4 linked regions of the Homo sapiens genome follow. The protein of the gene in region 3 purifies or fractionates together with the protein of the main gene of each other region. This does not show direct contact. Each region holds a gene or a part of one and is shown on either strand. Other genes may lie near its edges.

Region 1 (7,024 bases), on a different chromosome or scaffold from region 3:
ATCTAAATTCAATTACACTCTTCTTTAAGGCTATCAATATAATATTTATGAACTTTGTGGGAGCCTCTGACATCTATTATACTAAATATGACATCTATGATACTAAAGCCTTTCTGATAGCCTAACGAGTCTGTTAGCTCTGCTTCTTTCTAACTTTATTGTCAGACAATATCATCAGATATTTTTTTCAAGTAAAGAAAACAAGAAGAAAAATTAAGAAGAAACCTACCCCTCTTAAACTTTGTTCATCATGAAACATGTGTTTCTGTGCTTCCCACTGGACTGCAGAGAAAAGCTCAATTGGAGACTCACATTGTTTTCTGAACACATGGCACATCTCTAGATGCCTGCATTTGAATACTTATGTAACTTTACTGGGACATAATGGTTTTCTGGTTATTACGCACAACAGTGTATTAAACTCACAATTAGTTAACTGTGAAGTCTTCTGCTGTAGCATTTAAATGTCATATTGCTTTAAACAGTAACATCACATCTTCCCGAAAGCTCCAATACTGTGGTGGAGGAGAATGAGGTGAATAAGGGTACTATATAGTACTCAGTGGTCTTGCTTAATTTTAATTTGTAACAGTGAATTATGTAATTATGTGGGGATATCTTTTTGATATCTGGCTTCATCGCTTACTAGTTGTATGACCGTTGAATATATTACCTCTCTAAGCAGCTCCTTATCTGAAAATAGTGGATAATCATCCATTTCATAACCAATCTTTCATCAGGTTGTCATGAGGATTAAATGAGATAATATATACACAGCAGTCACGCAAAGCTTGGCATTGGTACTGGGAGTGGTAAGCACACTCCATGAGTGATAGCTGTCACAAAGGTAAAGTTCTTCTGTGGTGAAAAGGTAGAAATAGAAAGCAACTTTTACAGAAAATCACAATTTATAAGCAGATTTTAAAGGTCTGGAATAAGAGAATAAACAGAAACCACTACTTCAGAAAAAAATGAACAAACACTAGATGTATCCCAAGATGTTGGGCAGGTCTGTAGTGATTTCTAGGGCTGGCAAAATAGCAACTACAAAGTATATCCTCAGACCACCCAATCTAAGTGCTATTTGGTAATGGGAATTATGAAGAATCCTACCAGGCATTCTTCCCTTCGGTGTTTACTGACAGAGCAAAGGTCTACCCTCAGTGTCTTCTGTTGTAAGGCTGTTTGGGAAATGGCGACTCTGAACACATCATTGAATAAAATGGATTCTGTGGGCGGATGAACTTTTGTGCGAAACAGACAGCTGACATCAGTTGAGGAAGGAAGAACGGCAACCCTAAAATATCTGCAAAGAACAAGAATAAAATGGATTTCATAGGTACTTTAATTATACCAGATTCACAGCTATCATTTGAAATTATCTGCAAAGAGAGAAAATGAGGGATCGTGGAGTTCAAGATCAATCTAAAGTGTTGCTGCCATCACGGGTCCGTGCTCAGCTGCATAGATGCTCTGTCCTTAACCCACCCGAGCTGACTACGCCCCTGAGCATGCAATGGCCCAGCCTCCACTCACCACGAGACTGCAGCAAAGGCACATGATAGGAAAGTGAAGAGGAAGAAAATCCGTAGGGCAGACGAATTTAACGTCCCACCTGCCCCATGGACAGCCAATTCCAAAATAAGTTATTTCTGAGCCTGGGAAGGTGGGAACACACTAAGTAGATACTGGTGACTTTATCTCACAGAATCCTCATCCTGAGTATTAAACAAGAGATGCTGATGATCACCTCCCAGGAATGGAATACATTATCCTACTAGAGAAAAAGAAAGGCTCAGTAGCATATTGTTAAGAAAATTTAAAACAGATGAAACAACGGTTCAAAAATATCACTGTCTAGCATCTCCAAATTCTGAGATACGACAAACTGTTTTAAGAGTCCCGTGCTTTGTAAAATTCAGAGGAAGAGTTATAGAAAAACAATAACTTCTAATACTACCTTAAAGTGACTCTTCTGAGCACACATTGTATGAGGACCCACAATTCTTAGAAAGAGCGTGAGGTAACTTCCTTTAAATCCCAGGAAGAGAATACCGCTAAGTCTATCCCCTCCACCCCCATTTCCAGGCTTGTCTAATCTAGATTCTAAAACATGCCTTTCTCCGTTAGAAAAACTGTAATTCAAATGCAGAACTGAGGAATGTCATATTATTTTGTATTTCATATCAATATTAATTATGGAGATTCAGCAATGAAAACCTAGTGGGCCTGAAGCCCACTGCTGTTGATTAAAGAGCCTTACTAAGACACAGCTCACTGTCCCTGGGAGGCCGAAGATTCAGCAGAAGAAAATCTTTTCTGCTTGTCACAATTAATAATCAAAAAATAACTTTTGAGGTTGGGAAAAAAAAGAACAATTTTAAGAATATTTCATACTAGCTGTCATGTTTAGCAGTGTCATTATTTAGGCCAAGGCTTTTACATGTGGGTTTAAGGAAAGATTGCTATATATGTCAGGAAGGTTCGCACCAACTCAACAAGTGCCTGCACATTAGCTGGGGAGCCGAAGAGCAAATGTCTGCTCATTGGTTGGGCTGAGTATTTCACTGGTCCTACACTACGCAGGTATCACCATGCCTCCAGAAGGGACTTGGTGACATCCTATGAGGTAAGTGAGAATGACTGTGATTGGTTTAGTTGAAGTAGAGCATATTGCAGGTGCACCCTTACAGTGAGTTTAAAGAAGGTGTGTGTTCTTGGGGTGTTCTGTAGTTTTCTCCTGAAGTTGTGCATTAGTTCTCACTGTTTATTGTTTCAGTCTCTGGTAGACTTGTCTTCTCCATGATTTGCTTTACTAAAAGGCCACCAATGGCATGCTCCAACATCACAGCTTATCTACTGGTAGGGAGAAGTCACAGTTTATATCAAGCCAGTCTTCCTGGACACCGCTGACTGGTGTTTTTCATCTCGCATTTGGGAAGCAGGCTCTCTGCGTTGATCTAGGCACTTCTATGTGATGCCTGCTCTCCTCACTGGTCTCACTAATGATGTGGACAGTCCACACTTTGATTCAGGAAGTTCTCTAAGCTCACCCTCCTCCTGGAATCCTATCCTACCTCCAGCTTTGATGCTTGTCAACACATTAAAATCTACTATCTTGGCTGGGCTCGGTGGCTCACGCCTGTAATCCCAGCACTTTGGGAGACCAAGGTGGGAGAGCCCAGGGAGTTCAAGACCAGCCTGGGCAACCCAGTGAGACCCCATCTCTTAAAAAAAAAAAAAGAAAGCCACTATCTCTATTCTTCTATTGTCAACTACATAATTTCTATCTAGTTCTTTTTCTCTTAGATCCAGTTTCTTCTTTCTGATGATTATTGGAATGTTAGGAGGTGAACTTACAAGCAACTCTGTAGGAAAAACATGCAGAACTCTTTAATTTATTCTATTAAAAGTCTTATCACTAAGGAATATACTCTATCATTAAGGAAAACATTCACCTGGCTGGGTATAGAGTCTTGGGGATCACCCCTCAACAGCTCTTTTTAAATTTCCAAAGCCTTGCACTGCATATTCAAAATATTATTAAGATCCACTTCTTACAGGAAGTTTCAATGCAGAGTGGACATGCATATTCCGGATTCTACGTCATAGTGCTAAGTCGAAGTCTGGATTCTTCCTGGTACTTTCCAGCCATGAGCCCTTCAGAGTCACTGAAACTCTGATGTCAGAAAATGTGAATGGTGGTGTCTAAGACTTCCAGACTTATTTGTCATGAGATCTTTAGGCTTATCTGTCAGGAAGCAAAAAGTCTCTAAGCAATGGACTGTGTAGCATTATGTCATCACTTTGTTGGGATTCTTGGTTTGATGAAGTGAAATAACTTTAAGAACTCACTGGTCACAGGGAAGTAAATGCTTGATGATAAAAACATACTCTTACATGTAGCATGATAAAATGTTTGACTGGCAATGTTGTACAGATACATAAAATTTAATCACTACATTTTAATGTAAAAGATTAGAAAATTCCTTAAACAACAGTAGTAACAATTACACAAAAACAAAAATTTTACCCATATTTCAATCAAATTCCAACACAGCATAAAACAGTGCTTCTGGTTACAAAAAAGAGATTAAATGTCTTGGCTTCTACTCTTAGAAAGAATCAGTTGAGTAAGAATTAAAACTCAATATGTCTTCCTCACATTTCCCTTCTCATCTTTATCTGCCATTCATTTAGACATGATCAGCCCTGCTATGTCTTTTCCGTATCTTCATTTTGATGAACTGTATGATTACAGTGTAAAATTCTCTTACATGGAAATGTTTAAGTTCCTCAATTTGATCTTCGCTGATTTTACTTACACTTTTGAAGTATGAGGTATCAAGAAGGCATGAAGGTTTCGGAGCTGTGCTATAATCACCATGAAACTTGAACTTTTTGCATTGTATCTGTCAAAAGAGAGGCTAAATGAAGTCAGGAATCACCACAGGCCACTTGCCCTGCACAGATGTCAGAACTGCTCCTTTCCCACGTACATTCCTTACCTGAGTCCTATCTGAACCTGGGCGGTCTCTACAATGGCTACATCCTCTTCACTGTATGTGACATCTTCCATTTCACTAGGTCTATATGGACAGGGAGTAGATGAACAGTTAATTAATGGGGTTATCGATTGTTATGGTTAACAGTTTGCCACTTAGTGATTCTGAATGAAAATCCAAATTAACAGCACTCCTATGCCCTCCCAGTGGAACTGATCCCAGCGAAAGCTTACTGTTTCAGAGGCTCTTTTCAAGAAGAGCCCGCCTCTGGGCTTTAGGGCAAAGCCTCTCTGATGACTACTTTCCTTATTACTAGAAATATACCACACCCTTGAGACATTTCAGACTTTCAGAAATACACGTGAGAAGCTTCATGTGCCAAACAGGGTCTGGTGAATTCTTCCAATATTCCCACTAAATTCAAGGTTTTTAAATTCTAAAGAGGGTCAATTGCCTCTGGGTACACCAATCTGTTTATCGATAATTTCCATGGCTAAGTCATTTTTGATATACTGAACTTTTCAGGCACACCACTTCTTTAACGGCTAAAGTCCTTACTAAGCCAAAGAGCGGACTAATGGTAGCAGTCCATTTACAGCATATAACCCACATCCACGGCGATGGAGATTCGCTGGAGCTAAAAGCGCCCCTGCTGAATCCTTACTGTTTCACGAAAGCTTCATAGACCCCACTGTCTCCAGCCACAGACTCATCAGACACAGCAGCCGACACACAAGTGGTTTTCTCCCCAAGCAAGTGGATCACTCTTCTTTTTGGTAATGATTTTTCCACATCTATGGAGGGGAGGGTGAGAGCACTAATCAGAATGTCTTATTTGGAAAAGTTAAGTATTAAATACATACATAGTTTGGTCATGAGCAATCCAAAATAAGATTTCCTTCTGGGAGTCAAGGATGTTAATATTCAAATCTACAGCTGTAAACAACTCAAGGCACTATGACTTATAAGATTCCTGGGACGCCAGTTTTTTCAGTCATTACTTGGAAGAGAATATGGTTTTTCTTTGTCCTGAAATATTTTAAGGGAAGGGATGAATTACACAAATTCTCATTGGTCCTTAGTCTCTTTCTTTCAAGCATTCACTGCAGTGTTCATATATTCAGGAATAGGAAATGATCTATCTCCCTCAAGTGACATTTCTATCACAGAGAGAGCTTCTAGCTACTCAATGGATAAGTTTCCACCTCTTTTGGTCTCCCCTTCTCTCCACATGCCATATCCTACATCTCCTGTGCTACTATTCTAACAGAAATAAAGAAAAAATGTCTTTGACTCACAGGAACTCCTCACCAGCCAATACCATTAAAAAACTTTTTGTGCTACTGAATCTTTAGTACCAATGACCACTTAACTTTTATCTCGAACTCATATTCATACACCAGCATCCTGCAGTGAGCAAGGAACATTCATTTAAGGCTGTGCTCTGTACTGTAATGAGCTGCAAGCCTGTGGTGCTCTTTCATCCTCCAGTGAGTGAGAGTGAGCGCAGGGATCTGTATTGGTATGCATTTTGGCCCCCTTCTGAGCCGTGACTTTACATCTTGTGAAGATGTTTAAGTTTTAAGGCTTCAGATTACAGGATTGATTGCTGCATTTTCCACTTTATTTCTGGCAGTGGGAATGCTTTTTCCTTGATGATGAAGTGCCTTCTCTCCGCCCACCCCCCTTTGTGAAGGGTGAAGGTGATGACATGATTTATTGATTACCCCCAGGAATAACCACAGCAGCCTGAAATTGACTTTGACAATGACAGTGACTGACTGCGGAAGGCCTTTGCAGTTATTCCAACGTGGTTGGTGTCATCCAGCAGGGACTGGCACTGGACAGCAAAGTTTACGTAAAAGGGACTTGACTTTACCTGCCTAAGCCTCTAGAGCACTGAGGGAGATGACAAACGTCCCTGATAGGGAGCCACCACCCCACATGCAGGGCAGACGTCCCCTGAAAAAAAGTGCTGGTGACTTGAAGATAATTCATCTTTCCTTTTTTTGAGACAAGGTCTCACTCCTGTCACCTAGGCTGGAGTGCAGTGGTGCAATCTCAGCTCGTCGCAGCCTTGACATCCTCCTGCCTCAGCCTCCTGGGACTACAGATGTCTACCACCATGCCCAGCTAATTTGTGAGAATTAGCCTTTATGGTTAAATATACGCTTTCACTTGTTTTCAGACATGCAACTGAATATTATCTGCAATCAAAGCTCTTGGATGTATTTTCTCTTAGGGTAACTTTTTAACAGCAGTTTTCTAATATATGCATTTAAAAAGTTAAAAACTGTTTCACAAAGGTTCAGAGATACTGTCTCCATCCACAAACTTTTCAGACACAGCAAGACCCAAGTGTCAGGAGCAAGGCATGGGCCAACCAGACACACTTGCAAGACAGGACTCCCAGACCTCAGGGTTACTGGGTGGGTGACAGACTTTAGGCAACTTTTTCCCTCATCACTCTCTCCCCTCTTCTCCAGCATCCAGCCTCACTTACTGCCCCTCCAAATTGG
Region 2 (7,765 bases), on a different chromosome or scaffold from region 3:
CATAACCTATAAAATCTTTATTAAGAGATTCAGTCATGTTTACTAAACTGGGCAAGCACTAATATTTATAAGGCTTTTCCAATATGGGTTGAAATTAACTCACTCTGGCTAATCCTCAATTAATGAGATTTCAGTTAAAATCTTTCTTACAGTTGGTTAAAATTTTAGGAAAGCGTTTAGGTATAGTCTCAGTCTCACTGGAGTATAACATAACTATTTACTACTTATTGATTATTTCAAAGGCCCTCAATTTGTTTTCTTTTAGAAGGACAGGGATACTTTTGATATAAACCAGTAAACTACTCATTGTAACCAATGCTTTTCCACATTTTTCCCATGTCTTCTATGCCTGAGGAAAAGTCAGGAAGCTATATAGCCTGACGGTTACTGCTACTCCCAACTGTTTCACTCATCTAAACTTAATTTCAAAATACTGACGGGTTCCATTACTATAAATTTTTTTATTCCCATAGACTACTTTTTAATAGTGCTTTACACCTAATGTAACAGAATTTATACTTTAACTTTTAAGTTACATGATAGTAAAAGTCAATTTGGAACAATGGAAAATGCCATGTTTTATTAGAATCATAGTGTTAAAATTAGTCCTCTGACAGTTTAAGTGATGAAAGAAAGGAATTTACATTAATAAAGTAATCTTTTAATGACTGGTTAGTCACTTACATATATTTCTGTTTGCTGAGGTCTAAAGTTCCACTGGAGACTTGCATGCACATCTGCATTAAAGCTAATTTTAATGATTCGATCTTTAACAGGCACCATGTTTTCAATCTTGTCTGAGGCATGACCTGCAACTGCTGATCCTCCAAGTCCAGTAGTCTAGAAAAAGATACCAAATATGTTAAACAATACTTTTAGGTGTTGATGATCTATTTATTTGATAAAAGTTTAAAAACAATGTAGTATTTATAATCCATTTGGAGCCAAGTTTACATATGGTAACTGACCATTGCTGTAACTGTGTCAAGAATCTGACTACTTTTGGGATGTCATGAGCCTGTATTTGTTAAAGTCATTCCTATTTTTCAGCAATCCCTTGGTTACCTGGCATGGTCAAAAATGAGTCTGGGAAAAGCAGGTTCACTAGATAAGTCAACTATTATCACTGATAGTCGAACTCACAATTTCCAGCTTAGCCATTTATAAAAAACACATTTCCCTTTATTGCTAGTATTTCATTAATAGAAATAAAATTTACCCATGACCTTGTAATTCCACTGAAAATACTTAACTCAATTTTTCCATATTCCTGTCTGGTCCTTTTCCATATCACAGCTTTTATAATCCAAATAAGATTGTAGCTTCACTTTTATTAACATTCTGCTTTTCTAAGGTATCACAGGTATTTTCCCACGTTGGTTAATGGTTTTGAATCTTTTCTGTACTTCTCTGTATAGTAGAGCTTTTATATAAATCACTAATCAGAGCACCTAATCCCTATGGCCACAGAAATAATCATAGGGCATCAAGAGTATTTATGTCTGACATTTCTTTTATTCATGACAGTTATTTCCTTGACATCACTTTTAAAAAAAGCCCTTACCCAGCACTTTGGGAAGCCACGGGGGGCGGATCATGAGGTCAGGAGATGGAGACCATCCTGGCTAACACAGTGAACCCCCGTCTCTATTAAAAATAGAAAAAAATTAGCCGGGTGTGGTGACACGCGCCTGTAGTCCCAGGTCTACTCGGGAGGCTGAGGCAGAAGAATTGCTTGAACCCGGGAGGCGGAGGTTGCAGTGAGCCGAGATCACACCACTGCACTCCAGCCTGGGCAACAGAGCAAGACTCCATCTCAAAAGAAAAAAAAAAACGCCCTTACTTCCAAGGTCATCTTTCTTCTGATACTTGAGGTTGCCAGAATTCTGATTTCTGGATAATTTGCCTGTTACTATGCTAGGAAGAAAAAACAAAAAACAAATTTGAGGCTAGGGGAAGACTCCCAGCAAGATACAGTGTTTTAGCATTCTCTGTTTGTTACGCAAGTCAACTAACTTCATTTGACTGCCATGCAACATTACTGAATTACATTATATCCCTAAAAGATGCATCAGAGGGCAAGCCTTTATCCTTGTTTATCCTTCTGCCTGAGTGCTGTGTTTAAGATGTAACTTCTTTTACTAAAAAATTTAAGTCACTTAAATAAAAATACTTTTAAGTGTCCTCCCTCAATAAAGATTCCAATATAGTCTTTGAATATGGGTTCAAATTTCTAAGTTCAATGCCTAAAGTAAAATAGACAAAAAGACTAGAAAACAGCACTAAAAAGATGTCCTGGTCTCTATTCTAGTTGTGCTACTAGCTCTAAGAACCTGATAGATTACAAATTACATTTGGCTTCCTGATCTATGATTGCATGTGGGCACATTTCACACGCAATATTATCAGTTATTTCAGTTTGGGGCAGGGTTTCTCAATCTTAGAACTATGGACATTTTGGGCTGAATAATTTTTTGTTGTTTGGGGGTGAGGCAGTGCTTTGTTGGTTATTTAGTAGCATTCCTAGCCTCTACCTATTAGATGCCAGTAGCACCCTATACCCCCACCTCCATGTTGTGACAACCAAAAATGTCTTCACACATCGCTAAATGTTCCCTGAGGGGCAAAAATCTCCTGGCGGTCTGAGAAGGATCTAGATTTGCTGATTTGGATTCAGTTCTGCTTATGATTTAACCAACTGGTAGTTTTAGAATTCATGCTTGGGCTTGGTCTCTGATGAAAAGTAATTCACATTCTATACTCATCCTCAAAATCAACTATTGCACATTCCCACATAAATGCTGGCATTAGGAGACTATGCCAGAAAAGAAAAGTCCTTTTGTCTTCTGCTTCATCATCTAAAAGAAAGGTAAATTGATTTCCACGGGCATGGTGGCTCACGCCTGTAATCCCAGCACTTTGGGAGGCCAAGGCAGGAGGGTCACTTGAGCCCAGGAGTTGAGACCAGCCTGAGCAACATAGGGAGACCTCGTCTCTACAAATTTAAATAAATAAACGTGCGCGCGCGCGCACACACACACACACACACACACACACACACGGAAAGAGTGAACTCCAGCTAAGAATACCAGTCATGGTGTTAAAAAAACAATTCCCAAACTTTCCTGCACGCTGGAATCACCTAAAACATACTTGACAATTACTGATGCCTGGTTCCCACTGTGGCCTTGTGATAAAATGGGTAATGTGTGTGGATTTTTAGAAGCTGTCCAGGTGATTCCCAATGTTGCTGTACAATGAATTTTGGGAGCCACTATCTTAAACACTTACTGAATCACTTGTGGCATGATTTTTAAACCGAAATTCCTGTCCCTACCCTAGACTTCCTAACCAGAATCTCTGGGGTAGGGGATCCCTGGAACGTGTATTTAACGTTAAGCTCCATAGGTGATCCTAATGGCCAGCCAAAGCTGCAAATTATTAGCTAAGAACAAAGGAGAAATCTCTAAAATACGTGAAACTTGTCTTTGCCTGTGGTTCTCAAAACTTGCCCTCAAAATCAACTACAGGACTTAACTAAAATATAGAGTGCTGGTCCCACTCCCCTTCTTCTCCCCGCCCCACCCCCCCACCCCGTGTTTCTGACTCAGTCCTGGAGTCGGGCCCTAGAATTTGCACTTTTAACAGGTTCCCGGGTGATGCTGATGCTGCCGGTCCTGGGCGCCACACTCCCAGAACCGTTGCAATGTACTTAACAGTTTCCAGGTTAAGTACATTACAGTTATATATTAACAGGGGTGGGGCGAGAGAGCCTCAAAGGCCTAATTCATGCCTCTTTGTACGGAGGAACTGCTAATCCCAGTTTAAGCCCAAGAAACACGAGTAGTCCAATTTCCAGAGTTACCCTTGGCACATAAACCACATGTGGTTTGCAGAGTGAATGTATGAATAATACATTTTAAAAGCGTGTGTGCGCAGGAGGGTAAGGCAGACTGCTAGATACCCGGTTAGAGGCTGCGGACCTTTTTTTTTTTTTTTGGCGAGGTGCAGTTCATAGATCAGGGGTTTCACTCTGCAGCATGGTATAAGCACAATCACTAAGAACTGGATGCTACTTGCAGTTTTGTCACCAATTTCTTTGGTGACTTTGGGTGTTAAGTGACTGTTTTGAACCTCTCTCCTCTTAGGTAGATAATATCGGAAACCTCTTCCACCTACGACCCGCAGAGCGAGGGCTTGTCCCGGGATTTGTCTTGCACCCCCACCTCTCGCGTCTGCGCCACCCTGCGGGCGGCGCCGGCCCCTACCTGGCAATAGAGCCGATAAAGGGGTACGGCAGCGTAGGACGCCCCCAGCATGCCCACGGCGACAGCGGCCACGTAAGTGAGGGTCGTCTTGTTCTGCCGCCGCCGCTCCTCCTCCTGCGCGCGTGTGAAAGGGTTCGAGCTCTTAGGCCGCCGCGGCGGCTGCAATGCTGGATGCCGGGCTCGAAGGCTGCAGCGCTTCCATGTCCCAAGCCACCTCAGTCCTCTCTCGGCACCTCCTGTCCCACTCCACTCTGGCCTAAGAAACGGCTCTACCCTCTCTGCAGCCCTGGTTGGAGACCCAGGGTGGATCCAGCGCCAGCCACAGAAAGGAACGCACCTCCATCCAGGACGCCAGAGCCCTCCCATAACCCTCTGAACTAACACCCACCCGCCTCTCAGGGACGAGAGGTCAAATCTCGCGAGGCGTGCTCCGTCTCGCGAGATCTGGGTTGAGCCTGCCGCTGCCTTGGCTACCAGGCTCCTCAGGTGGCAGCGCTTGCAGTCGGGCTACGGAGGCCGGGTTGCCAGATTACGGGTAAGTTTGCGTTTTGCTTTGTGACTGTTACTCCCACTTCGCTTCTCGCCAGAACGTCTCTTAACATTTAGGAAAATGCGTTTCGCCCGTCCGCGTGCAAGCTTGCCATCACTTGGGGTTGCGCCTGTGATCTTTATTTAAACTCCACCAGCCTTTGTCTCGACCCGGCAGCCCCGGCGACGCTCTCCCGCGGTCTTTTCTCCTGGGGTCCCTTGGCCGCTGGCTCCTGTGCTCACTGCCCTGGACTTAGTTCAAGTATCACCTCTCTCAGGAAGCCTTGCTGTGTTAACCGCAGCCCTCATGGGCACCCACGACACCTGCATTTTCTCAGCCCGTGGGCAGTCGGCTTCCCCTGCTCTGATGCCCCTTACAACTTGCCCAGTGGAAAGCACCACAGCTGGAGCAGGAGGGAGGCTGTCACGCTGAAGTTTGTTCTGGAGAGAGTGACCAGGATAGGAGGGCCATTTAAGGAGAGACTGAAAGAAACGAACCCCGTGGGAGGATGTAATAGCTTTCTTCAGTTGTCCCACAGGACGAACTCGAGGGGGGCAGACAGCATAGCGGATTTTACTGTGTTAGAAGGAAGCATCTTTCTAGAAACTATAAAATAGCAGTTAAGAGCTCAGGTTCTGAGGTTAGGGGGTTCTGGATTTTTACCCGGGTCCTCACCATGGCCCTGTGCCCTTAGGTCAGTTACTTGTCCTCTAAGACCTGGTGTCCTTACTTGTAAAATGGAAATCAGAACAGTAAATGAATAATATTCATATAACGTCTTTCATGATGACTGAGGCATAGTAAGAATGTAGTTAAAAGTTAGGCTGTATTTCTACTTGCTACGTGGCCATTTCTAATGGCCAGAGCAGGTATAATTATCCCCACTATGTGGATGAGGAACTTGGAGGCCTGAGAAATTTTAACTAGTCATTCGACATTTTATTTATTTATTGCCCTCTCAACTGTGGGCCTGACACCAATCGACCTGCTGGCACTATAGCACAGAACAAGTCGGGAGATCACTTCAGTGATGGAGTGTCCTTTCTGCTGAGGGACTCAGAAAATAATCAAGTAACAGTTACCGAAATAAGGGAATTTCAGATAACAATCAGTGCAGTGAAGACAATGTAATAACATAGTATGATTGACAGTCATGAGAAGCGGTAGTAAAGTAAGGACGTTTTGAAGAGGTGACATTTGAGTTTAGATCTGAACGATGATAAGGAGCTACCTACTCAATAACAATTCCAGGCCAAGCAAAGGCCCAGGGGAAGGAAAGAGATAGAATGATTGAAGAACAGAAAGAAGGCCACTGTGTTCCCAACATAGCAGAGTGGAAAGTGGTAGGAAATGGGGTCAGAACAGGTAACAAAGGCCTGGTAATACCAGCCTTTTAAGCCATGTCCAAGGGTTTGGATTTTATTCTAAAAGTAATAGGAAGCTATTGGAATGTTTGACACATACAAGTGATGTGATCTGACTCACATTTTTGAAAAGATATTGATTACTTTGTGGAGAATGGATTAAAGGTAGGGGGAGGAATGGAAGTAGAACAATTAGGAAGCAATTGCAGTAGTCCACATGAGTGATGATGGTCACCTTGAGTGAGTAATTGATTAACTTGTGGTCACAGGGCCAGAAAATTGCAGAACCAATAAAATATAAATACCTTCTGACTTCTTTCTATACTCTGGCATACTGTCTCAAAAATTTCAGGTCTCCATGATTCTACAAATTTATTCATATTGTGTGATGACAGTGTTTGAAAATCTTTTTCATCTGCATGCACCTTGGTTCTTGTACCAGATTCTCAGCTCTTCTAGGATGAGATTTCTCAAAGTTTAATTTTCTTACAGCATAGACTGAAATCCTTGATACCAACAGTACATTTCCACTCACCATTCTGTTTCTCCAGGCACCCCTTCTTTGTAGCTCCAGGTAGCAGTATAAATATATGTCAGTATACAGTCTTTGTCTTGGACTCCAGTATTTCATTTTTTGTATAATAATTGCAAAATGAAACTCTTATGTACAGTGATATTGATAGCAATGAAGTGGTGTTGGTCTTTGTAGCTTTCTACTTTAATAAAAGAAAATATGCATTGTATCTGATCTTAGTATGATAATGTGAAATGACAGTTCATGTTTATGAAATACTTCTGAATGACAACTAAATATTTTGGTTTTTTACTTATATTTTGAATGAAATGTGTAGAACATAATTTAGTTCAATGTCCAATTAACAAACATATTAAACAATTTAAAATATTTCTGCAACATAATAGTACTCAAATTTCTTGTATACCCTTCACCAAGATTAGAGAATGATAAAGATTCTTCAGTCTTTATCTGCATACTTACTTGTTTATTTCCTATTACAAGAACACTTTCTCCTTCCAAACCACAGAGCAGGCATCAAAATCAGTAAGTTAATATTTATCCAGTATTACCATATGTAGTCAGCTTGGACTACCAATAGCAAAATACCACAGACTGGTTGCTTAAACAACAGAAATACTTGTTTCTCAAAGTGCTGAAGGCTGGAAAGTCAAAGATCAATGTATCAACTGATTCACTTCCTGGTGAGGGGTCTCCCTGGCTTGTGACATCTACCATCTTGCTGTGGCCTTACATAGATTGGAGTAAATGAGCTCTTATGTCTCTTATAAGGACACCAATCCCATGAGATCAGGTTCCCACCCTTATGACCTCATTCAACCATAATTACTTCCTAATCCAAATACAGCTACATTGAGGGGTTAGGGCTTCAACATATGGATTTTGGGGGATATATATTAAATTCTTTACATCATGTTATTCATGGACTCTACATAAATTACCCCATTTGTCCCAATCATTTCCATTTTAGATCTAGGATTTAATCCAGGATTACTCGTTGATTTTAGTTGTCATGCCTCTTCAGTCTTCTTCAATCTGGAATAGTTGCCAGTCTTTTCTTGTCTTTTTC
Region 3 (7,024 bases):
GCAGCTCCAGGAGAGCTGCCCAGAGGGCAAATTCTCACCATACCTGCACACCCCGCCAGCCCCTGAGTTTTCTTTTGCTAAAAGTTTCTCATTGTGTTCTGATCAAGAGGGCCCTTAGAATGGCCATCACCTCTCATGAATTCCCATCAAGCTGGCAAAAGCTGCCCATAGTGAGGAGAGCAGAGAAGTATCTGACCTGTGGGGATGTTGCTTAGGCTATGGGGTGAGTTTTTGCATTAAAAACAAAACAGATGGAGACTCATCTTGGGCTCAAAGCCACTGGCATTGTCACCACCTTGCCTGGCCTCCTGGCTCACTGAAGCAGCTCCTAATCCAACTCTAAGGTCTGCCGGTGTCCTTGAGCTCCTGAGTGTAGCAGATTTGGGGGAAAAAAAAATCAACAGGGAAAATGAAGTAGAAATGGGGTAATTATTTTCTTGAACTAAAGGTTAATGGCTAAAATTTGCTAGTCATTATTACCCACATGAATGGAATGGAAAAGCATCTGGAGAAAAAACAATAGTGAAAATCTCCTTGTTCCTTTGTGATAATGCAAGGAGCTCTAAGGAGGAGACCCATGCCAAGATTTTGGCTACAGGCTATTTGTTTAATACGAGTAACAAGAGAAGAGGATGAATACAACCAAAATGAGGTTATGGGACCATGTGGACATCATTAAGTATCAAGTTGGCAGGGGAAATAGCTAAATTAAATGCTTAGACTGATAGGTTCTTGATGCTAATGTTGCTTTTAAGTGGTCTGGAAGAAGTATTGAAAAATCATTTTCTACCAATAAATTGCTTTATTCCATGCTGGGAAAGCTCTCTCCCAACAGCACCTACCCATTTCTTCCATTCCAAGCCAAAGGTTTTCTTTGCTAGAGGCAAAGGTACACCTTGCACAATTTCCTTCTAGGTTTGCAAAAAGTCATATCTGTATAAAAATCTCTTAGCACTACTCTAGTGGGGCTGGCCAGAACTGTGAGGTTGAGAATGTTCTTAAGGTTTTCCAAAAGTAACAAGGTTGCTACAGATTCAATTTCTGACCCCAGGAACTTGGCTTCCTTAAAACTTTGGGCCTTGATTGTTCTTTTCAGGTTGAATCCCAGTGATGGGTTAGGAAGACCTGGAAATGAAGGTGGCCTAATGGAATCCATCAAAGCAAATTTTAAGTTACAACTGTTTCGGAGTTCCTAAAATTAGGCTTGGCTACCTTATGGTGCAGCCATGGTGAATGAAGAGAAGTCAATCTGGCTTTGATTAGTTCTAGTTAATAGGTTTTTTTTAAAGGAGTGAAAATGTTCATGGCAAGCAGCAATGGAGATTTTTTTTTGTTTTTCTGAGACGGGGTCTTGCTCTGTCATCCAGGCTGGAGTGCAGTGGTGCCATCTCGGCTCACAGCAACCTCCGCCTTGTGGGTTCAAGTGATTCTCCTGCCTCCCTCCTGAGTAACTGGGATTACAGGTGCACGCCACCACACACGGCTAATTTTTGTATTTTTAGTACTGATGGGGTTTCACCATGTTGGTCAGGCTGGTCTTGAACTCCTGACCTTGTGATCTGCCCACCTCGGCCTCCCAAAGTGCTGGGATTACAGGCGTGAGCCACAGTGCCCAGTCGAGATTTTTTAAAGTAGCTATAATCCAAACATTTTCTCATTAGTAAGAGCAGATTCACTTCGTTGTTCTATATGTGCCTGCATAGTCCTGTTCTGACAACTTAACTGTCTCCCCAAATTGTACAATATATTTTTTTAAAGCGATGAGGTTTAGTCCTGTCATCCAGGCTGGAGTGCAGTGGCAAAATCATAGGTCACTAAAGCCTTGAATTCCTGGGCTCAAGCGATCCTCCCACCTCAGCCTCCTGATTAGCTAGGACTACAGGCTCCTGCCATCATGTCTGGCTGGTTCTTTTTTTATTATTATTTTATTTTAGAGATAAGATCTCATTATACTGCCCAGGCTGGCTTCATACTCCTGGCTTCTAGTGCTCTTCCTACCTCAGCCTCCCAAGTAGCTGGGACTACAGGTGTCCCCCACCATACCTGGCTCTGTACATATTATGAAGAAGAGCTATTCATGTCTAGTACTAGGATGGATCTTCAAGTGGTAATATGTATGTATATATGTATGTGTGTATTCACGTATGTGTGTGAATTTTTGACAGAATAAGTTCAATGGAGAATTATTTATCCAATTACTAAGTTATATATCCAATTACTATAATTTTCTTGAATCTGTGTGAAACATCTATTGAAAGAAAATCTGAATACAAAGCTAGACATATCACAGTCCAGACAATACTGGTGAGTCTTGACTTACGGATCTATACAGAAGGCGGTATAGGGATGTTGCTCTTTAATACCTAACTGGATGTGGGGGACAGCTTTCCTTCAAGAAAACAAAACACTAAAAGACACAGCAAGGTGAACTTCCCCAATACCAGCTTACCCAATTGGAAGTCTGAGCTTTGAATAAACAGCAAAATGCTGGCTGAGGCACTGGCCTCAATAACGTACCAAGTACACCTGTTAGAAGCCACAAATGAGAATGGAAGATTTATCTGAAAGGGCAAAAACTCAACATTTTGTGTAATAAAGTACTACCTTTTAAATGCTCAATGATTCCTTAAAAACCTACCACGTTCCCTGCATAAGCCCTGCCCCTTGCTCAGTGCCTGAAGCATGTGCTTTCACACTGGAAAATGCCCTGGGAGAGGAGGACACTCACCCTGATCATCATCTCTCTCTCTATAATGCTGTCTTCCAGGGAAAACATTTCAGACACAGGTCTCTCCTTCACAGGCTCTTTTTTGACCCGCTCCTTCACACTAGTCAGGTCGGGTTCCGAGATGGATGGGCCGAGAGAGGCCCCGTTGACAGCCGGCGGGTCAGTCCGAGACATGCTGATGGCCTTGGCTGGCCCATGCCTCAGCACCCTGGCTCTGGCCATGGCGGGAGGAAGGCTGGCTTGGTCCTGCCTCAGAGCCCCATTGCTCACACTCTTCCTTGGACCGGGGTACTCAGGCGGGGGCTTGTTGGGGATGCGGGCCAGGGCCGCCTGCAGCTGGGCACTGTACTCCATCTTCTCCCGGAGCATGGGGATCTGGGGCACCGATTCTGGAGCCTCCTCCTCCTCCTCCTCACTCTCGCTGCTGTGGATTAGCATAGTGGCATCAGAGAAGGTCTTCTTGTGGTGATACTGAGGGAGCTGGGGGACCTCGTGGCTGCCTGACCCCTCCTCGGGCGGTCCCTGCTCCCGGAGCGTGTTGCGGCGAGCCATGGGGAGGTGGAGCGACTTGAGCGTCATGGCCTCCATGCCCCGCACCATGCTGTTCATCACCTCCAGGCTGTGGCGCTTGTTCACAGTGCCGTGGTGCTTGGTGGCCGTGAGGGGCTCGCTCACCTCCTGGAGAGACTGATGAACCACCGGAGAGCTGTCCTCTTGGAAGGTCTTCACCGAGAGCTGCACCTTCCGGGTCACCAGGTCCGGGCTGCTGCCGCTGACGTACTTGTGGCGGTGGCTGGCCAGGTCTGGGGTGCTGGTGGCAGGTCGTGGCCGTGGGTAGGGGGGCGGTGGCCTGAAGAGATAGTTCTTAAGCATGTGGGCCGTGCTGTAGTTATGGCTGCCCTGCAGCTGCATGTTGGCCAGCTCTGGGGTGCTCACCGTGTGCGAGATGGCGCTTGCCCCCGGCTTGCTTGGTACCACATTATTCTTTGGGTTCCTCTGGTCAGATGGACTGACAAGTTTGTTGCTGTAGACCCCCTGTGGCCCATAAGGGACAGTGTAGGGGTGCCTCTCCCGCATCTCCGGTTGGCTGTACACCAGATCCTCTGGCTGGTTGTAGGCATGGGTGTTGATAATGTTGAGGTTTCTCAGAGACTGGCTCTGGCTGTCTGTATGCAGGATCCCCCTCTTCATCTGGCGCATGACTGTCTCATAATCGGGGGTTGGCCTGTACGAGGGCACGATGATCGCGCTGTGCCGGTGGCTCGGGATGTAGTCGGCCCGCATGATGTCACTCCCAGGGATACTGAGGTTGGAGGATACAGGGGAGGCCTGGATGAAACTTTGCGAGCAGTTGAGGGAGTTGACGCTGTGAACGCTACACACGCTGCCATTGGTGACAGTGCCATTTAAATAATTTAAGTCCAGGCTGTTGTGAGAGTTGCAATACAAGGCTTCTTCATTCCCATGAAAAATGCTGTCTACAAGAAGTCAAACAAAGGCACGTGAACCTCCAAGCCATCCTGCCACAACAAAGTACATCCTCATACTCATGAGGTGACTTTTAATTTAAACAAATCATAAAAAGTGAAATCCCATGGTCTCCACCCACATGTTCTATAGAATAACAGATACTATCTTGGATGAAATGCCAACATACAGAAAGAACACCTTAAGACATACTGAAAAGAAAAAGGGAACCTAATGGAAGAAGGCATGCACACATTTGGAGTAAGTGTCGCTTGAGGAAGTTCTCAATTTTGCCATAAGCTTTGAAATCAGGCACCAACAACAGCCCTCCAGTTGGGGAGGCCTGTCCTCTTGTGCAGGGCTCGGCAATAGGACTGAATATTTAGACAAGACAGTCAAGAACTTTAATAGGGCAATAGATTTCAATTACTAAGTGCTCAGAGCTGCTCTTCCTGACGGCAATGGAAAAAGCCCCTTCACCCAGGGGACTGCAGGGCATTCTAAAGACACAAAACAAATGATGTAGCCAGGGTGTCCGCACAGCTAGTTCATCCTGAGCAGCAATAAAGGGCAAAATTAGAATCAAGAGTTCTTTTTGGTAATTCCCCAAATCCCCTCTAGATCTGGTTTCATCACTTAGGTCAATTCAAGTAAAAATTAATTATAGTTTAAAGAGGTACCTAAAGAGAGAAAAAGCAGATTTCTACAATCAGGCCCAACCTGATTGATTTCTACAATCAGGCCCAACCTGATTGATTTCTACAATCAGGCCCAACCTGATTGATTTCTACAATCAGGTGTCTGGTGTTCTCTTACACACACACACACCCCAAGGAAGGCAACCTCTTGCCTTTCTGTGGCCAAAATATATTCATTTTCACACTACAGATTTAAACATGAGCAAAACAGAGAAACAGAAAATCAGAGAAGGTGAAAAACAGAAAAGGTGACTGAAGACATTCAACTGTCTGAAGAGGAAGAATGTGGAAAGAGATCTGATCAGATGAGACAGGCACAAAAAACAGGGGGAACACAGAGACAAATGTGCCGCAATTTATCCACCTCCCATGGGGTTTGGCGCCTTCCCATAGAAATGTGGTAACTTTGCCAGTCTCCTTATAAAAAGTACTATTTTTATTAAATTAAATAGTCTTGATTGTCTTGGTTTTCATGCTCACACTTTCAGACAGCAGAGGATTCAAAATGGCCAGGAGTTGATAACGTAGAAACTATATTATCCATTTACTACATTTCCAACATCCACGGTTTTCTACCATCTCTCTTTTTGAAATGCAGTTAGCATAACGATTACAAGTTACCGATTTTCATATATAAGTTCCATCATTAATCTCTCTGTATTCCAATTTCTATAACTGTAAAATAGAAATAATAATAGTACCTATAGGTTTATTTTAAGGATGACATAAGACAATATATAGCAAGTACTTACAGCAATACCACAATTGCTCTATGAATGTTAGTTGTTATCATGGAGTCATTACTAGCAGAAGAAGCTTTTTCACACATTTTGCATGGGAGATGTTTTGGGAGAAAGAGAGGAATAAAACAGATTTACCTTACTCAGAGAAGAAAAAAGCAAGTGTACCAAGAAAGGGGCTGGAGAAAGAGATGAGAAAAACAGCTAAAAGAAAAGGCTGACTTTGTTTATTTCTTCCAATTATTCTGCATGCCCGTGTTCTACGTCACCATGAAAAGCTGAGTGACTGCCACGAGCTTTCTGATACTGGCAATGAAGGTGAAGTGCATTCGCTTGGGCTGAGCTGTCATACTCTCTTCTCTAAGCTCCCTTAGGAAAGGGAGGAGAAAAGGACTTGCTCGCTGCCTTGGCCCCGACTCCCTGAGCAGCCAATACTGGGGAAATTTTTTGATCAGAGGTAACTGACAGTCTAGGCCTTCCACAAACTGAAGCTGTTAGCTACTGTCATTCAGACGATGACAAAGTTGAAAAGAAAGCATCCCTGTCATCTTTTTTTTAAAGCCTTCTTTACTGCTTACTGGTATTCAACTTTTTGTCTTAAGAAGGGAGAACGGCAAGCCAGAGTTACCTTGCGAGGTGTGCGTTTCCGAGTAGTGCTCACCACACTGGACGTGAACGGGAGGCAGGATGTACGGCTGCTGCCTGGGCTGAAACAGAGAACACAGAGGAGGTGGGGAGGCCTGGGCAGACACGGCTGGTGACTCACACAGCCGGCCCAGGCACACGGCAGTCCCGCCACGTTGTAAGGGAGGCTCGTGGCAGCTGCTGTCCCTGCCACCCCTTTGACTCAACCTTCTTCTACCCGTCTGCACTCCCATCTCATCACTAAGTTTGGAACTGGAGAAACAGTAAGGGAGAAATGAAGTTGGTTCAAGATCAGAAAGAGAAAGAGGTCACCATCAAAGACTAAATGTAACCATTTACTATCTATGTTCTAATATATTTGCAAAGTTCTCTATGCCTTCTTTCACAAGAATAACTTTTAGAAAAGGTAAATTATTCAAGGCAGGCAGATTGACTGAGCTCAGGAGTTCAAGACCAGCCTGGGCAACACATTGAAATGCCATTTCTATTAAAAATACAAAAATTAGCCAGGCATGGTGGCGCATGCCTGTAGTCCGAGCTACTCGCGAGCTGAGGCAGGAGAATCACTTGAACCTGGGACTTGGAGGTTGCAGTGAGCCATGATCGTGCCACTGCACTTCAGGTTGGGCAACAGATTGAGACTTCGTCTCCAAGAAAAAAAGAAAAAAATTATCTGGGCGTGGCGACATGCACCTGTAGTCCCAGCTACTTGGGAGGCTGAGGCGTGAGAGTCGTTGAACCTGGGC
Region 4 (7,024 bases), on a different chromosome or scaffold from region 3:
TTTTTTTTGAGACGAAGTTTTGCTCTTGTTGCCCAGGCTGGAGTGCAATAGCACAATCTCGACTCACTGCAACCTCCGTCTCCCAGGTTCAAGCGACTCTCCTGCCTCAGCCTCCCGAGTAGCTGGGATTACAGGCGCCTGCTACCACGCCTGGCTAATTTTTTTGTATATTTAGTAGAGATGGTGTTTCACCATGTTGACCAGGGTGGTCTTGAACTTCTGACCTCAGGTGATCCACCCACCTTGGCCTCCCAAAGTGCTGGAATTACAGGTGTCAGCCACTGCACCCAGTCCCACTTACTATTTTAAAGTGACAAAGCCAGACTTGACTCAGTGTCCTCTAATGATCTTTATGGAGAGCTTATCTACTACAGGGAATCGTGAATCGTGTGGTATGCAATCCCATGTTTGGGTGGAACAACAAACACATACACATTTTTTTCCATAGTGGAAAAATGAGCTTGTCACTTGACTTGTCTCTCGGCCTCAGTTTCCTCATTTGCAAAATGCCATAAAAATATGATGAGCAATAGTGTTTGGCACGTGACAGACAATGGATAAGGATCTTTAAAGACAATCATGATTATTTATCACCATTATCACCAGGTGCCAGTTATTGTTCTCACTGTTAGTGATACAAAGACAAACAATGCACTTAGAAGAAATTCCTGGAATACAGTGAAATGCTCACAGCCCGACTCTCCAAGAAAAGCCACGACAGATGTAGGACTGGAAGGCTGTCCCAGGGTCATCTCATCCTAGCAGCCACCTGATGCCTGCATCTTGACATTTTATCCTTCCAAGTCTGTTACCCGTCAGTGGATCCCAGGGGCTACCCCAGGGACGAATCCAACAAGTAACCACCACTGGGCGGGGAGGAAGCCAGTGTGGGGGTTGCTACCAAAACAGGCCTGGGCAACAGCAGGCAGCCGACTGGGGAAAGTCAGCAGCTGCAGTTGGCCTGGTGTCCTCGCTGCCAGAGAGTGATGAATGGAGCAAGAGAAGAAAAAAAAAGCCAACAAAGGTGTCCCTAATCTTGATGCAGCTTCATTTTTTTTTTTTTTTCTGGCTGACCATTGAGTGAGAACTTAAGCCTCCGTCCCTTTTCTTTGGCAGACATTTGAAACTGAAAGATCTCATTTCTTCCCAACAGTGAGATGTCATGGGTAGAAGCATTGAGCAGGCAACTGGCAAGGGGTGGGGGGTGGGGAGAATGGGCATGTGACCCACCACACTTGTCCTTTTTCTTTCCCTCCTCCCCACTCTCTGCTCCACCCCCTCTTCCCCATCCTGCATCTTTAGAGAATATTCTCCGCACACAACAGTGAACGCCTGCCCCCTCCTCCCGCCACCCCATTATTATTTTTCTGCTCAGGAACTAAAGGCTAAATGGCCTGCTGGGGAAGGTCTAATAACAAAATGTCACTGTATCCAGTTTCTTAGTTTTCTCTTTCTTTATCTCACTCTGAAACGGATTCGAGGCAGCAGCAACTGAACCTTTGCTGTTCTACCTAAAGGTGTGCAGCCAGCTGGCCATCTCCATGCTGGGAGAGGCAAGACGGGAGTTTTTTGCCCAGATCTAGCCCTCAGCCCTGTCCAAGTGGAGGTGCTTCCCTTAGCAAATAGCGAGGAGCTGGTGATAGGGATGTCACCAGGCCACTTCTCCAAGTGAAGTGGATTCCTCTTATCCAGGGCCCCTTGCTGAACTGGAGGCTGCAGAGCCTCATCACCTAGCACCACATGTGGCTGGAGAGAGCTCCTGATACACGTCATGGACAGCCACCTGACATTAGGTCGGCATTCCCTGCAAGTGCCACTGAAGCCTGATCAAGGCTTCTGCCACTGAGGGAACCGTGCAGCAAGACGGTGGCCACCTTCGACTCACACTTATTCTAGCCCTGTTTCTCCTTACGTGCACCTGAACTTGGCGTGCCAACCTTCCAGGTAACTAAGGCAACCTGATTCTCTTCCCTTCAAAAGGGCAGTGTTCTTCTCACAGCAATCTGGGACCCCAGGGAATTGGAAAATTGGGTCAGTTTGGATAAGCCCTCTCCCCGGGAGGGGGAGGGATGGCGACAGAGAGGAACGGCCTTGGCTACTCATTCCCTGGCTGTTGGGAGCATTTACCCAAGCGACTTGGAAAGGACTGTGAACTCCTTGTACACACTGCATCCTTCAAAGAGTCCCTCTGCCTCCATCTCTCTCTCTTCTCCCATCCCCAAAGCTCTGGTTAGCCAGCTGCTCCCAGAAGGTGGAGTTTATGCCAAACAGTCTCCTAAGCTGCCATGAGGATCTCACTGGCTTCTCTGGTTAAGGCTCCTTAGCAAAGTCTCTCCCTGAGATCCACATCAGGTTCACCCATTTTAAGAATAAATGGTAACTCTCAAGCCCAGCTGTCAACAGGGCACTCTGGGGCCCTGAGATGGATTAATAAGCCAGGACAGAGCCAGACCAGGCTACAGCTAGTATGAGTGTAGATGCAAGAATCCAGCTAGGTGGGCTCCAGTCCTGGATGCAACACCTGTTGGTGATCTTGAGCAAGTTACTAAACCTTTTTTTTTGAGATGGCGTTTCGCCCTTGTTGCCCAGGCTAGAGTGCAGAGGCGCGATCTCAGCTCACTGCAACCTCCGCCTCCTGGGTTCAAGCGATTCTCCTGTCTCAGCCTCCTGAGTAGCTGGGATTACAGGTGCGTGCCACCACACCTGGCTAATATTTTGCATTTTTAGTAGAGACGTGGTTTCACCATGTTGGCCAGGCTGGTCTTGAACTCCTGACCTCAGGTGATCCACCCACCTCGACCTCCCAAAGTGCTGAAATTACAGGAGTGAGCCACTGCGCCCGGCCGGTTACTTAACCTTTCTAAATTTCAGTTCCCTCATCTGAAGTACTTACCCCATATGGCTGTTGAAAAGATAAAATGAGGTCACAAAATAGAATGCTTAGCTCAGTGGGCAGCAGAGAGTAAACACTCAATAGATGCTGGTATTGACTATTATTTTATTCTTCTCTGGGTTACCAAATCTCTTGCTTCTCCCTATTATCTATCCTAGTGTTTTTAAACCTCATTTCTTTCTTAATAATTGACATAGGATGTTCCCAGGCATGGTAGACTCCCATGGAATACGTAGATCTTAAACTCAAGCCTCAGAAAAAGATAAAAAGCCCTCTAATCACTTGTATGTAAGTATTATTATTATACATCTACAGGTATTAGTGGATCATTAAGAGCAGCAGCATGGAGAATAAAGAGGTTCTGGGTAACTTCCCTGGCAGACTGGTTATAACTCTCACTTAAGAAACCTTGTTGGGTGGGGCACAGTGGCTCACACCTGTAATCCTAACACTTTGGGAGGCTGAGGCAGGCGGATAACTTGAGGTCAGGAGTTCGAGACCAGCCTGGCCAACATGGTGAATCCCTGTCTCTACTAAAAATACAAAAATTAGCTGGGTGAGGTGGCATGCACCTGTAATCCCAGCTACTCGGGAGGCTGAGGCACGAGAATTGCTTGAACCCGGGAAGTAGAGGTTGCAATGAGCTGAGATTGCACCACCGCACTCCAACCTGGGTGACTGAGCAAGACTCAGTCTCAAAATAAAATAAAATAAAATAAAACAAAGCTTGTTGGAATATGACATTAGACTGACAATAACTCTAAATCCATTTTAATTGATTATAAAAATAGGAATTCACTTGCAATCACTGGAAATGTAATCATTTGACATACAGCAAATTCCTATGACACAACTCACAAATGATTGTGACGCACGATGAATGCAACTTCCTGGTCTATACAATCAAAAACGATTATGGAGAATAATGCAGCCATGCACATAAAATATGTGTGAATTATTATCATTGATGAGAAGGACATAGATCTGACTTTTAGTAAAAAATTTATATAAGAGAAAGAGAAAAAAGAAACTTTTACTAGACTCGAGGTTGGCATTTATTTTCTGTGTGACCTTGGGCAAGTCACTTGTCTCTGGTTCTCAATTTCTTTTTTTTTTTTTTTTTTTTTGAGATGGAGTTTCGCTCTTGTTGCCCAGGATGGAGTGCAATGGCGCGATCTTGGCTCACCACAACCTCCACCTCCCGGATTCAAGCGATTCTCCTGCCTCAGCCTCCCGAGTAGCCGGGATTACAGGCATGCACCGCCATGCCTGGCTAATTTTGTACTTTTAGTAGAGATGGGGTTTCTCCATATTGGTCAGGCTGGTCTCGAACTCCTGACCTCAGGTGATCTGCCCGCCTCAGCCTCCCAAAGTGCTGGGATTATAGGCATGAGCCACCGCACCAGGCTGGTTCTCAATTTCATCAGTGAAATGAGAGGCCTGGATTTCACGAACAGAAAGGTCCACTCCAGCTGCAAAATTGGGTAGATATGCAGCATCCATTTGATGCTGCTGTTTCACAGGTACGTTCTAGGAAAAGTTAAAGGAACTGGCATTCCTCAGTGTCCCCTGCATGTCAGACTTCAGGCTTGCTGCCCTACCTACCTTCACTTACTTATCACCCATAACTACCCTTGATGGTTGATGGACATCTTTCCATTCATTAGAAGGCAAACGCAAGGTTCAGGGACAATATGTCAATTACCAAGGTAACTCAGGTAGCAAGTGGCAGATCCAAGATTCCAGGAGCCAAAGACTCACTTATCTACATTTGCCCTCTAGGTGCCCATGACCTGACCACACCAGAATGGTCACAGGTAAGTGAAATCATGCCTGTTTTGGCTCCATTTCCCAAGGCCAAATTCCTTAGGCACTGGAGCAGTGGTCTTGATTCTGCAGCTAACTCAGCAGGAAGTAAAATGAGGCAGTGGTTAGAAATGTGTGTTCTGGTGTGAGCCCGCCTAGTATTCACATCACAGCTCCACAAAGGTTGAGGGGCTTTACCAAGCCTCCCTGAGCATTGGGTAGTTCAGGTGGGTAATAATTGTACCTAGTCCCAGGGTTGTTAGGAGGATTTAAAGAGATAACCTATGTAAAGCTCTCAGCAGACTGCCTGAATATAGTAAATACCCAATCATTATTTGCTACCTAGCTAAACAGGAGGCCTTTCCATGGTGACAAGCAATTTCCAAGCTTATCTATGGCAGGGGTTATGAACCTGGGGTCCAGGAGGTCCCTGAAATTATGTGCAAAAACCTTTTCTCTAGGAAGAGTTCTGAACCTTTATCAGTCTCATAAGGGTCTGTGACCTGACAGAGGTTTAGACTTTTTGACTGCTGTAGACCTGACTTCCTACCATATCAATTATTTCTGAAATAACAGGGTTAGCAAAAGATCCTCAAGTCATGGGAGAAGTTGCTGGATCCTCTCAGCATGGCCTCTCCAGCCATGTGTGCCTCCGGTACTTACCATACAGACCCAGAAACTGCCCAGAATTCCCAGGTGGTTCCTATGAGAAGGTCTGAATACAAATCGCACAACAAGAAGGAATCAGGCTGCAGGAACCTTCTCTGGGAGGGCCAGCCCCAAAGATCTATTCTTCCTCCGAGAACAATCGGTGCATTTGTTTTGCATACCACGAAGTGAAATACACAGGACGCTGGCCCCTTCGCTAGAGCTCACAAAAGCACCCAGAGTTACTCCGCAAAAGGAGCACGGCTCCAAGGTGCTGTTCAGACCTGATCCACAGCACCTGATTCCCGAAGGGCCTGTCACCTTCCCAGGCTGGCCTTGACTCAGGAAAAGCCTGTGGTGCTGCTGGAGCCTTTGGCCCAGTGGGCAGGACCCAAGCTGCCCACTGGACCCTCTCCGGTTGTTGGGACAACCATCCTCAGGAATTTCGGCCTCCCAGTCTTCCCCTGGGTGAGAAGGGGAGAGAGTTGGCAAGGCTGGCTGCTTGGCTGCTCTTCCAACCCCCTGGTGAAAGGGGAAGCTGAAAACTGGATTCCCTACCCCCAGCAGCTCCTGGCCGGCCAGCACACAAAACAGCTCAGCCCCAGAGGGAGGAATGTGCCAAGACATTCTTTAGGGTTGGTAACCAGAGACGCTATTTTGTCCTTGGTGGCTAAGAAATCACTTTTCTGACTGAAGGACCATTTGACTTACTTCTTTTAAATTCAGGGGAATGGGTGGGCATCTCCATGATTCAGGTAAGGAAAAATCCAAGGCAAATAAACACACACACACACACACACACACACACACACACACGGAGTAGAAATTTTTAGTGCAATTTTTTGTCTCACAGCATTAATTAATTGCAGGGATATAACTACCTTGGCAGAATTTTTTCTCCCCAACCCACCACCCCCCGGAATAAGTTTGGCTCTTTTCAGCTTTGTTAAATTTCTTCTTCCTTTTTCTCATAGCCCATCCCTGTTCCCCCTTCTCCTCTCATGGAGTCTGGAGAGGTAAGAGCGGCAGAAGGGTTTGAAATAATATTTAAGAGCTGGCAGGCCCTTGAAGACCATCTAACCAACCCACTTCTCAAGCACTCAAACCTCAGAGAGGTCAAGTGATTTGCCCAAGGCCACACAGACAGAACTAAAAGGCAAAAATGGGGTATGCCGGAGGGAAATTCCAGAAAACCACAAGTGGCTATCCTCCAATTAGCACTTTTCCAAAACATACAAAGCTGGACCACAATAGTGACCCCCAGAGTTGACATGAGACCCCCTCAGGACCCCAAGTTCAGGGGCCCAATACCACCCCAGTCCAGGTGGGATGACAAGGAGGTACAGAGATGAAGTTTATAAACCAGTGACCCAAGGCCAAGCGTGGTGGCTCACGCCTGTAATCCTAGCACTTTGGGAGGCTGAGGTGGGCGGATTGCCTGAGCTCAGGAGTTCAAGACTAGCCTGGGCAACACAGTGAAACCCCATCTCTACTAAAATACAAAAAATTGGCTGGATGTGGTGGCGTGCACCTGTAGTCCCAGCTACTCGGGAGGTTGAGGCAGGAGAATCGCTTGAACCCAGGAGGCAGACTTGCAGTGAGCCAAGATCGCACCACTGGACTCCAGCCTGGGCGACAGAGCGAGACTCTGTCTCCAAAAAACAAAAACAAATAAAC

What was found.
Region 1: the proteins of PTPN14 (region 3) and WWC2 purify together in Homo sapiens (affinity purification with mass spectrometry, with the first as the bait; 3 studies listed by BioGRID). This does not show direct contact.
Region 2: the proteins of PTPN14 (region 3) and STXBP4 purify together in Homo sapiens (affinity purification with mass spectrometry; 4 studies listed by BioGRID and IntAct, with this or other methods). This does not show direct contact.
Region 4: the proteins of PTPN14 (region 3) and WWC1 purify together in Homo sapiens (affinity purification with mass spectrometry; 8 studies listed by BioGRID and IntAct, with this or other methods). This does not show direct contact.

What each region holds. Positions count from the first base shown.
Region 1 is NC_000004.12:183,263,253-183,270,276, reverse strand, and holds part of WWC2 (protein WWC2), read right to left. Parts: intron 5,300-7,024; coding exon 5,170-5,299; intron 4,590-5,169; coding exon 4,509-4,589; intron 4,413-4,508; coding exon 4,326-4,412; intron 1,307-4,325; coding exon 1,114-1,306; intron 283-1,113; coding exon of another isoform or gene 235-282; exon of another isoform or gene 230-234; intron 1-229. UniProt on the Homo sapiens protein: Regulator of the Hippo signaling pathway, also known as the Salvador-Warts-Hippo (SWH) pathway.
Region 2 is NC_000017.11:54,964,013-54,971,777, forward strand, and holds the start of STXBP4 (syntaxin-binding protein 4), read left to right. Parts: upstream 1-4,752; 5' UTR 4,753-4,803; intron 4,804-7,765. Other genes in the region: COX11 (cytochrome c oxidase assembly protein COX11, mitochondrial), read right to left, coding at 685-840, 4,269-4,634. UniProt on the Homo sapiens protein: Plays a role in the translocation of transport vesicles from the cytoplasm to the plasma membrane. Inhibits the translocation of SLC2A4 from intracellular vesicles to the plasma membrane by STX4A binding and preventing the interaction between STX4A and VAMP2.
Region 3 is NC_000001.11:214,380,583-214,387,606, forward strand, and holds part of PTPN14 (tyrosine-protein phosphatase non-receptor type 14), read right to left. Parts: intron 6,341-7,024; coding exon 6,262-6,340; intron 4,207-6,261; coding exon 2,729-4,206; intron 1-2,728. UniProt on the Homo sapiens protein: Protein tyrosine phosphatase which may play a role in the regulation of lymphangiogenesis, cell-cell adhesion, cell-matrix adhesion, cell migration, cell growth and also regulates TGF-beta gene expression, thereby modulating epithelial-mesenchymal transition.
Region 4 is NC_000005.10:168,294,623-168,301,646, reverse strand, and holds part of WWC1 (protein KIBRA), read right to left. Parts: exon of another isoform or gene 5,363-7,024; intron 1-5,362. UniProt on the Homo sapiens protein: Regulator of the Hippo signaling pathway, also known as the Salvador-Warts-Hippo (SWH) pathway.